Homo sapiens: one gene and its partner. The protein of the gene in region 1 purifies or fractionates together with the protein of each later gene. This does not show direct contact. Each region holds a gene or a part of one and is shown in the gene's direction. Other genes may lie near its edges. The genes, in order: CDNF and LYRM4.

Region 1 (4,608 bases):
AGACTGCAGTGCCAGATCTCGGCTCACTGCAACTTCCGCCTCCCGGGTTCAAGCCATTCTCATGCCTCAGCCTCCTGAGCAGCTGGGATTACAGGCGTTCCCGGCTAATTTTTAGTATTTTTAGTAGAGGCGGGGTTTCACCATGTTAGCCAGGCTGGTCTAGAACTCCTAACCTCACGTGATCCGCCTGCCTCGGCTTCCCAAAGTGCTGGGATTACAGGCGTAAGCCACCGCGCTGGGCCCCTTTCTTCCCATTTCTACAAATGAAGTAGTATTATTCCCTTTGGCTTTTCCTAACAAGTCATTTGACATTTAAACGCGGGACTAGTGGCAACGGAGTTCATGATTATCGTTTCTTCTGCCTCCCCACTGATGAGAGAAAGGCCACAAGTCCTGTCAGGCTCTCACTTCCAGAAAGGCCACCTCTGTAGACCACGCACCATCAACTGGCTTCACAGCCAGGCAGCTTTGCGGGACCATCAGCCCCAGCTCGACTGCAGCCTCCCCGCCCCTCCGGGACCTAGACGTTCGGGCCCAGCTCAGCGCGTTCTGCGGCCCTGCTGTCCCAGAGACCACCGCCTCCAAGTACCTCGCGGCCACAACTTTCCCAGGACCTCCCACCCGCGGGAATCCTGAGGCCCTGACGTCAGCGAGACCCCTTCCGGCATCCAGAGGCCAGGACGTCCCCGTGACCTCCCCCAAAATGCTCGCAGCCCCGCCGTCCCCGGGACCCCCCGGGACACCCAGCGGCCCCGCTGTCTCCGGGACCCCCCCGGGCACCCTGCAGCTACGTCGTCCCTGGGACCCCTCCGGGCATCCCGCCGCCATGACGCCCTGGGACCCCGCGCGTCTACATCGCCGCGAGCCTCCGCCGCGGAGTAGACGACTTTCCGGAGGAATCGCCAGGCGCGAGGCCGGGCCTGCCCGGCCCTTCGCTCCGGAGTGTCCTCGCGGCAACGCCACTCCACGACATCCCTAGGCCGGCGACACGCCGCTCTCAAGCCTGTGGATGACCCAGCGCCAGAAAACCGGGTGGCCGTCATGAAGCCCTAGCCCAGCTCCGCAGCCCCTCACCTTATAGACGGCCACACAGGCTGAGGTGCAGCCCAGGTGAACTCCGATGGCCGCCATGAGGCAGCAGGGACGGCAGCGGCAGGAATGAGGGGGTCCCCCAACAGCAACAGCTACCGGCCGCCCAACGGCCCCATCAGGCACCGCGGAGCTTCACGTTCCCGCCAGCCCCCTGCGTCCGGTCGGCCGCTACAGCCTCCCGCGTCGCCGCCAATCAGCGTGAAGGTTCCGCCTTTCTTCACGCGCAGTCCGCGAGTAGCTTCAGCGCGTCTCTGCGCTCCGCGGAAACTGCACAGTGCGCACGCGCAACCGGGGAGGGACGGGAAAAGGCTCCTACACTCCGCCCCCTTCCTATCCCTTCCTTGAGAGCCAATGGAAACTCTGTGTTCAGTTGCGTCATTTGTCCTGGCAACTACTGGCAGATTCTTTCCAACCTCGAATTCTGCTCAGCTCGCTTTGGCAGCTTGGTGGGCGGTGGGCGCGGGTGGCGGAGGCGATTGAAGCTGCTGGCCCAGCATGTGGTGCGCGAGCCCAGTTGCTGTGGTGGCCTTTTGCGCCGGGCTTTTGGTCTCTCACCCGGTGCTGACGCAGGGCCAGGAGGCCGGGGGGCGGCCAGGGGCCGACTGTGAAGGTGAGCGGTGTGACAACTGCTTGCATGGCGGCGGCCCCGCGCTGCGGCGCAGCAGCTGTCGGCTTTGGCTTCTCCTGGCCCTGGCTATAAATAACATTCCGCCCAGGAAATGCAGGCCCTGTCCCTCGTTTTAGATCGCCCAAGCCCAGCTCGAGTAAAAAGCTCAAGCCGGGCCTGGTGGTAACGTGAGGCCACGTTGTGGTTTTGCTGTGAATATTAAACTTCAGCAGTAAAAGCTGGTGGGTTTGTATTTGGATTAGAGTTTGTGCAAAGAATGCTAGATTCAGATGATACTGGCGCCAGATTGATTCTGCTGCTTCCAACCAGCAAGATTTGCCTCCCCTTGCACAGAAGACGTCTTTCAAGTCCAAGCTAGTTGGTGACTCCCCAAAGGAAAACAAAACATGGCATTGAGTTGAGTAGCTTAAATCAGAGGACATAGCTAATATTTGTTAGGACTCTGTAGGTGAAAATTGCTTTGCAAAGGAGTACACTGACTCCTTGGGAAAGAGAGGAATACAAAAGAGTGGTTCCTTTTTGTTCACGGTATCTCAGCTGTGAACTCGCAGTCAGAATACGTGAGTCTGTATCCCACCAAGTCCCCTAGCTCTGAGACTTTGGTTTTTGCAAAATCAGCGTACTTCACTTTAGAGATCTGTTAGCAAAGGCAAAGAAGGTAAGTGGCTATGCTAGCCCCTTCCTTCTGGACTCCTGTAGCGCTCACTCCATGTTTTACTGAAAATAATTAGTTTAAATGTATATGCCCTCAGCTGGAAAATATATCCCTAGTGAACAGGAAATTGTAGGTTCATCATATATGTTGAGTGAATGGATGGGTATAGTCGTACTAAAGTTGTGTTTTTGTTTGTTTTGTTGTTTTGTTTTTTGTTTTTGTTTTTGTTTTGAGACAGTCTCACTGTGTTGCCCAGGCCGGAGTACAGTGGCACAATCTTGGCTCACTGCAGCCTCCATCATCGGGTTCCAGCGATTCTCCTGCCTCAGCCTCCCAAGTAGCTGGTACTAAAGGCACCACCACCACGCCTGACTAATTTTTATATTTTTAATAGAGATGCAGTTTCACCATGTTGGCCAGACTGGTCTTGAACTCCTGGCCTCAGGTGATCGGCCCGCCTCAGCCTCCCAAAGTGCTGGGATTACAGGCGTGAGCCACAGCGCCCAGTCCTTAAAGTGTTAATAATTGGAGCCTGGCTTTCTATGAGCTCTGCAATAATTAAACTTTTCTCCAGAAATTTAAAATATCTACATGTTATTACTCGATATAAAGATATTTGTTTAGCTAAGTTATAATTTTGCTCCAAACCATGCTATAATTGTGTCCTATACTTTTAAAACAGACTTTGTGAGGCAAAGACAATTGATTTGATGACTCATCTGGGGCTCCCACTTATAAATGTTTCAAGAGAGACAGCATCTGGATTAATTAAATGGGAAGCTTATGCTGTCTGTCCTAAATTTATTACAGCATGCTGTGATTATTGCATGTCTGACTAACCTGTCTATATATTTCATTTGTTAGGTAAAGAAGCTTGTGTAATCGCAGAGGAAGGACATAACAGTTTGGTAACTAAAAGAACCAGATTCTGCATCCAGCTCTATTACTGCTTATGAGTGATCCTCCCTCCTCAGCCTCCTTTCTTATTTACAACTTAATTTCTTCTCAATGTATAAGATTAAAATGCCATATTATACATACTCTAGAGCGAAGGCAAAAAAACTGAATGGTTCCTGAGCCGTCTCGGACCTATTGATATGTTTCGTTACATTTACAAAATATTTTGAAAAAAATTAAATTCACTGGGTACATTTTAAAATTGGGAAATTTTATGTAAAAATTCATATTTCTGGCTTTTCTCAAAAAACCAGATGACCTGGCAAGATTGGCCTTATGGCTGTATAGTAGAATTGGCTATTGGCTGCTCTTTTTAGAAAGGACTTGGGTTTTGAGTAGTTTGCCGCCCCTACTCTGCCCCCGATTCAAATTGCTTAACTCTTCTTTTTCCTTGCCTGGCCCCTGTAGATATTCAAGTCTGTGAGTCCTATTATTAGGTAATGTGAGGTTTACTGGAAAAACATAAATATTTCCAAATCTCTTTTAAAGGATTATATTATGGGACTATTTTAAATAACTTTTTATTTTAAAATAATTATAGATTCACTTATAAAACTATCTTTAATAAACATAAAAGCACAATATAAATAAAAGAAGTATGGCTATCTGAGGTTATTTTAGCAATAAAGACATCCCAGAAAACTTAAGAAGCTACTAATTTGTTAGGGCATTTATGGTGAGGTTATTCTCTTCATGTAAGTCCAGAAAATGAGTTTCCTTTCTTACCTTGACTTCTTTGTGGTGTGTGACACCATTGACATCTTTCCCTTTCAGAGACTGCCTTCTCTTCATGGTCATGATACTGCTTTTCTCCTTCCTGTCTCTATGCCCACTTGTCCAGTGTGTCTTTGTGGGCTTCTGATCCTCTAGCCATGGCTTAGAATTTTCCAGGGTTCTGCTCTCTTCTCTTCTCTCTTCTCAGTCTACACACTCTTCTTGGCAACCCAAACCAACCTACCTCCAGTCTAATAAATCTCTAACCTTATATCCACTGACCTTTCTAGAGTCTCAGACCTTGCATCCAATTGACTAGTGAACATGCCCTCTTAGATATGATGTACATCAACATCAACACAGTCAAAAAACCAAAGTCATCATCTCCTTCCCTTCTCACTCCCCTAAACCTGTTACTGTCATGCTTACGGTGACAGCATGGGACAACTACCTGGTCACCTAGCCTAGATTCTAGACTTCTCTTTCCCCCTTATCCCCCAACCAATCACTACATCGTTGAGTCTACCTCCTGACTGGTCCTGCTCCTTTCTCCTTACTCAAG
Region 2 (3,812 bases), on another chromosome or scaffold:
TTTCTTTGTCCTTAAAGTATTCTTTCTCTTAACCTTGGAGTCCAGGGTTTTATAAGTAGATATCTTGGCATTGTCCTCTGGTTGTTAAATTTCAACGATGAGTCTTCTCAATTTTTTATAATCACTTCTGGGACATTTCCTTCCATTATAAATTTAATTACCCATGCAGTTCAGTTTGTTCACACTTATTATTCATAGGTTATACACCTTTGCCCTATTCTGAAGGTTAATTTTTTTCTTACATATTTCTCACCAACGTATTTAATTTTTCCATGCTTTAGATTTGAATTTCTAGTTTGTCTTGTTTTAATTCAGTGTTATTGCTTCTGTCAGCCATGTACATATTCTCTAGCATTCTAATCTTTCTTTTTTTTTTTTTCTTGTTTTGCTTTTCTTAAAAGTGGGCAAATGTAATATAACTTCTATACTTTTTTTTAATTTACTTTAATAGTCATCTTACTGAGGAATAATTTACATACAATCAAGTGCATCCATTTTAAGGGTACAGTTCAATGATTTGACAAACCTAAGGGCATGTGAAAACACCGCCCCATTCAAGAGAAGGACCACTCCATTACCTCAAACCAGTCCCCTTGGGCCCTTTGTGTTAACTTGGAATGGCTTCTGTTTCTTATTTCATCTCTTTATCTACAGATCTTGTCACCCACCGAACCTGAGACCAGTACCCTAGTTATTCTCCACTGTATTCCCAGCTCCTGGCATAATGCTTATATAGTAGGCATTTAGTATGTATTTCTTGAATAAATTGTAATTTTGAATTTTGTAATCATTGCCTTCTAAAAGTTGTTTGAATCTTTTTGCTGCAAACCCTTTTTTCATTGTTTTGTTTTCATTATTGGTTATTGGTACTTTTCTTGAAGGTCTTTTTGATATTGCCTATGATATTTTGATAAGCTCATTTATTCATTAAACATGTATTGAATATCTTCTCTGTACCAGACACATACAGTGGTGAGCCAGAAAGATTAAAGTTCCTGCTATGTGGGGCTTACATTGTACCAGGAGCTCACATTATCAGAAAGAAACTTTCTGCTCTTCTTCACTCTGTTATATACCCAGAGTCCGTGTGACCTTCAAATGATCCTTGAGCTTCCTCTCCATAGGCATCGTGATCCATTTGATTATACACTACACACATACACACACCATAACCCCAAGGATGTTAAATAACTTCGAGAGAGAAGAGCCTGAACCAAGATTGGGGCTGAGGAGTTGGAGAAGTAGAGGTGATTCAGAAGGGATGTGGAAAGTTACGATTGGAAGATTTGTGATTGGTTGCATATAGGGAGTTCTGGGAAAGGAAAGAATTTAGGATGAGTCTCTAAGTATTTGACTTGGGCAGTTGACTGCATGAAGATTCTCCTACCTGAGGAAGGAAGTATTGGTCATCATGAGCACTTCAGGTTTTTGTTTGTTTGTTTGTTTGTTCTTGAGACATTGTCTTGCCCTGTAGCCCAGGCTGGAGTGCAGTGGCGCGATCTTGGCTCACTGCAACTTCCGCCTCCGGGTTCAAGCAGTTCTCCTGTCTCAGCCTCCCAGGTAGCTGGGATTACAGACATGTGCCACCGCACCCAGCTAATTTTTGTATTTTTAGTAGAGACAGGGTTTCACCATGTTGACCAGGCTGGTCTCAAACTCCTGACCTCGTGATCCGCCCGCCTTGGCCTCCCAGAGTGCTGAGATTACAGGCATGAGCCACCGCACCCAGCCAGGCACTTCGGTTTTGAATGTATTCACTGGAAGAGTCTATATTTTAGTTGACAAGTGCAAAAGGCAATTGGGTATATGGATTTGGACCTCAGAAGGAAGGTCTGGACTAGAGAAATATTGGTAGCCAATGGCATCTATATGGCAGGTGAAACCTTTGACAGATGCAATTACTGGCAGAGATCTTATGAATAAGAAAAATGGTTCACATATGTGCCCTAGAGAATACAGCATGTAAGGGGCAGCAGAATGAGATGAGCCCACAAAGGAGCTTGGGAAGGAGTAGCTAGGCCAGATATAGTGGCTCACACCTGTAATCCCAGCACTTTGAGAGGCCAAGGCAAGAGGATCACTGGAAGTCAGGAGTTTGAGACCAGCCTGGGCAGCATAGTGACACCCTCTCTCTACAAAATGAAAATTAGCAGGTCATGGTGGCATGCTGCTGTATTCCCAGCTACTTGGGAGGGTGAGGCGGAAGGATCGTTTGAGCCCAGGAGTTTGAGGCTACAGAGAGCTATAATAGGGCCATTGCACTTCAGCCTGGGTGACAGTGAAACCCTGTCTCTGAAAAAAGAAACCTAAAACTGGAGGTCTGTGTATTGCAATGAGTGCTCTTTAGACATTAAGACTTGAATATGAAGACTTGACCTCCAGAAATTAACAAGTAACAGTATCATGGAGGCATGCAACACAGTATTGTCAGATGGCATGACCTCAAAGATGCATAAGGGTGAATCAGTGATCTGAAAGCAGCAGCAGGCTCCCGGAATACACCAGCACCCTCCTCTGGGCCCTGTGGAATATGGGGACATGCTAGAATTTAGCAGCTTCCTCTTGCACATTTCAGTTAAGGCAAGTAGGTGGAGGATGTGTCCTTCCAAGTCATTGGAGGTAGATGAGTTTGCCCCACAGAGGCCAGTAGAAAGGATTCAGCTTTTATTGTTCCTAGGATACTTGAGTTCAGGTTACAGAGGACCAAGAAAAGGCACAGATGTGTTTATAGGATAGGTACACAGAGAAACCAGCACTTGAGATGCTGATGAAGATGACAGAAATGAAAGGCATTACATTAGGTGGTTTCCACATCACACATTGGATGCTAAAGCTGATATGAGCCTCCAAGTGCTCAGAGGCTGTGATTATGGCTGCATTTGGTGTTTCTGGGAGGGGACAGAGTAAAGCAGAACCTCAAGCACTGAAGAGCTTTCGTTACTGCCTGCTGTGCAACAGGGAAATTGGAGTTTTGAGTGGAAGAATCTCAGAAAAGAGTATAATCCTTGCAATGGTAAAAAGAACCTGTGGGCACTTGAGATCTAATGACAGAATGAAGAGCAAAGGCTGGGGTGGAGAAGGAAAGCCAAATGGGAGTCTCCTGTGCAAAGAAGCACCAAGAAACTGCCAAGCTTCAGGAGAGTGGAAAGGGCAGTGTGTGTGCGAGCATCATCACCTCACTGTTTCTGTGGCTGTGGGGCTGCTGCTTTGTATTTGGTTGTGTTGCCCTTTCTGCGTTAGTTTTTCATGCCGTATTTCAGACAGCGTCTGACTCATTAGGATCATCCTAATGCACAGCATTGTGTAGCACCTAGCTGCCATTTTCACAGCAACTTCTGCAAATTTTTCTTTGAAATATTCTTGCTCAGTGGTATGGTCAAGAGGCTGATAGCCAGAATCTGCAAAAAAGAAAAGCAAAGAAAAAAGAAAAAAAAAAAAGCAAATGATAAAAACCAGGGCAGGGCCAGGATTGAAATAACTGGTGATTAGCCCCCTCCCACCAAATTTGAAGATTCACTCAGATTTTTGATGACTTTCACAAAGCTGTGATCATTCGAAATAAGAATTCTTACAACTAAGGAAGAAACTCTTCATGCAGTAGTAGTTTTGTGGTTCTGAGCCAGTGAAATATTTTCCCTTAGGGCGAAGAATAACACTGGGTGCTTTAAGTGAGGCAGAAAGAGCAGGAAAGAGAGGAGGGAACCATTACAGCATTCATCTCGAAAGTGCATCGAAAATTTGAATCATGACTCTTGATTGCTTTAGACACATTTAATTCCAAGATCTAGAGCTGCTTTTCTTTAGGTAAGGAC

The links.
Region 2: the proteins of CDNF (region 1) and LYRM4 purify together in Homo sapiens (affinity purification with mass spectrometry, with the first as the bait; one large-scale study listed by BioGRID). This does not show direct contact.

What each region holds. Positions count from the first base shown.
Region 1 is NC_000010.11:14,834,926-14,839,533, reverse strand, and holds the start of CDNF (cerebral dopamine neurotrophic factor precursor), read left to right. Parts: upstream 1-1,496; 5' UTR 1,497-1,587; coding exon 1,588-1,702; intron 1,703-4,608. Other genes in the region: HSPA14 (heat shock 70 kDa protein 14), read right to left, coding at 1,075-1,131. UniProt on the Homo sapiens protein: Trophic factor for dopamine neurons. Prevents the 6-hydroxydopamine (6-OHDA)-induced degeneration of dopaminergic neurons.
Region 2 is NC_000006.12:5,219,332-5,223,143, reverse strand, and holds part of LYRM4 (LYR motif-containing protein 4), read left to right. Parts: intron 1-3,812.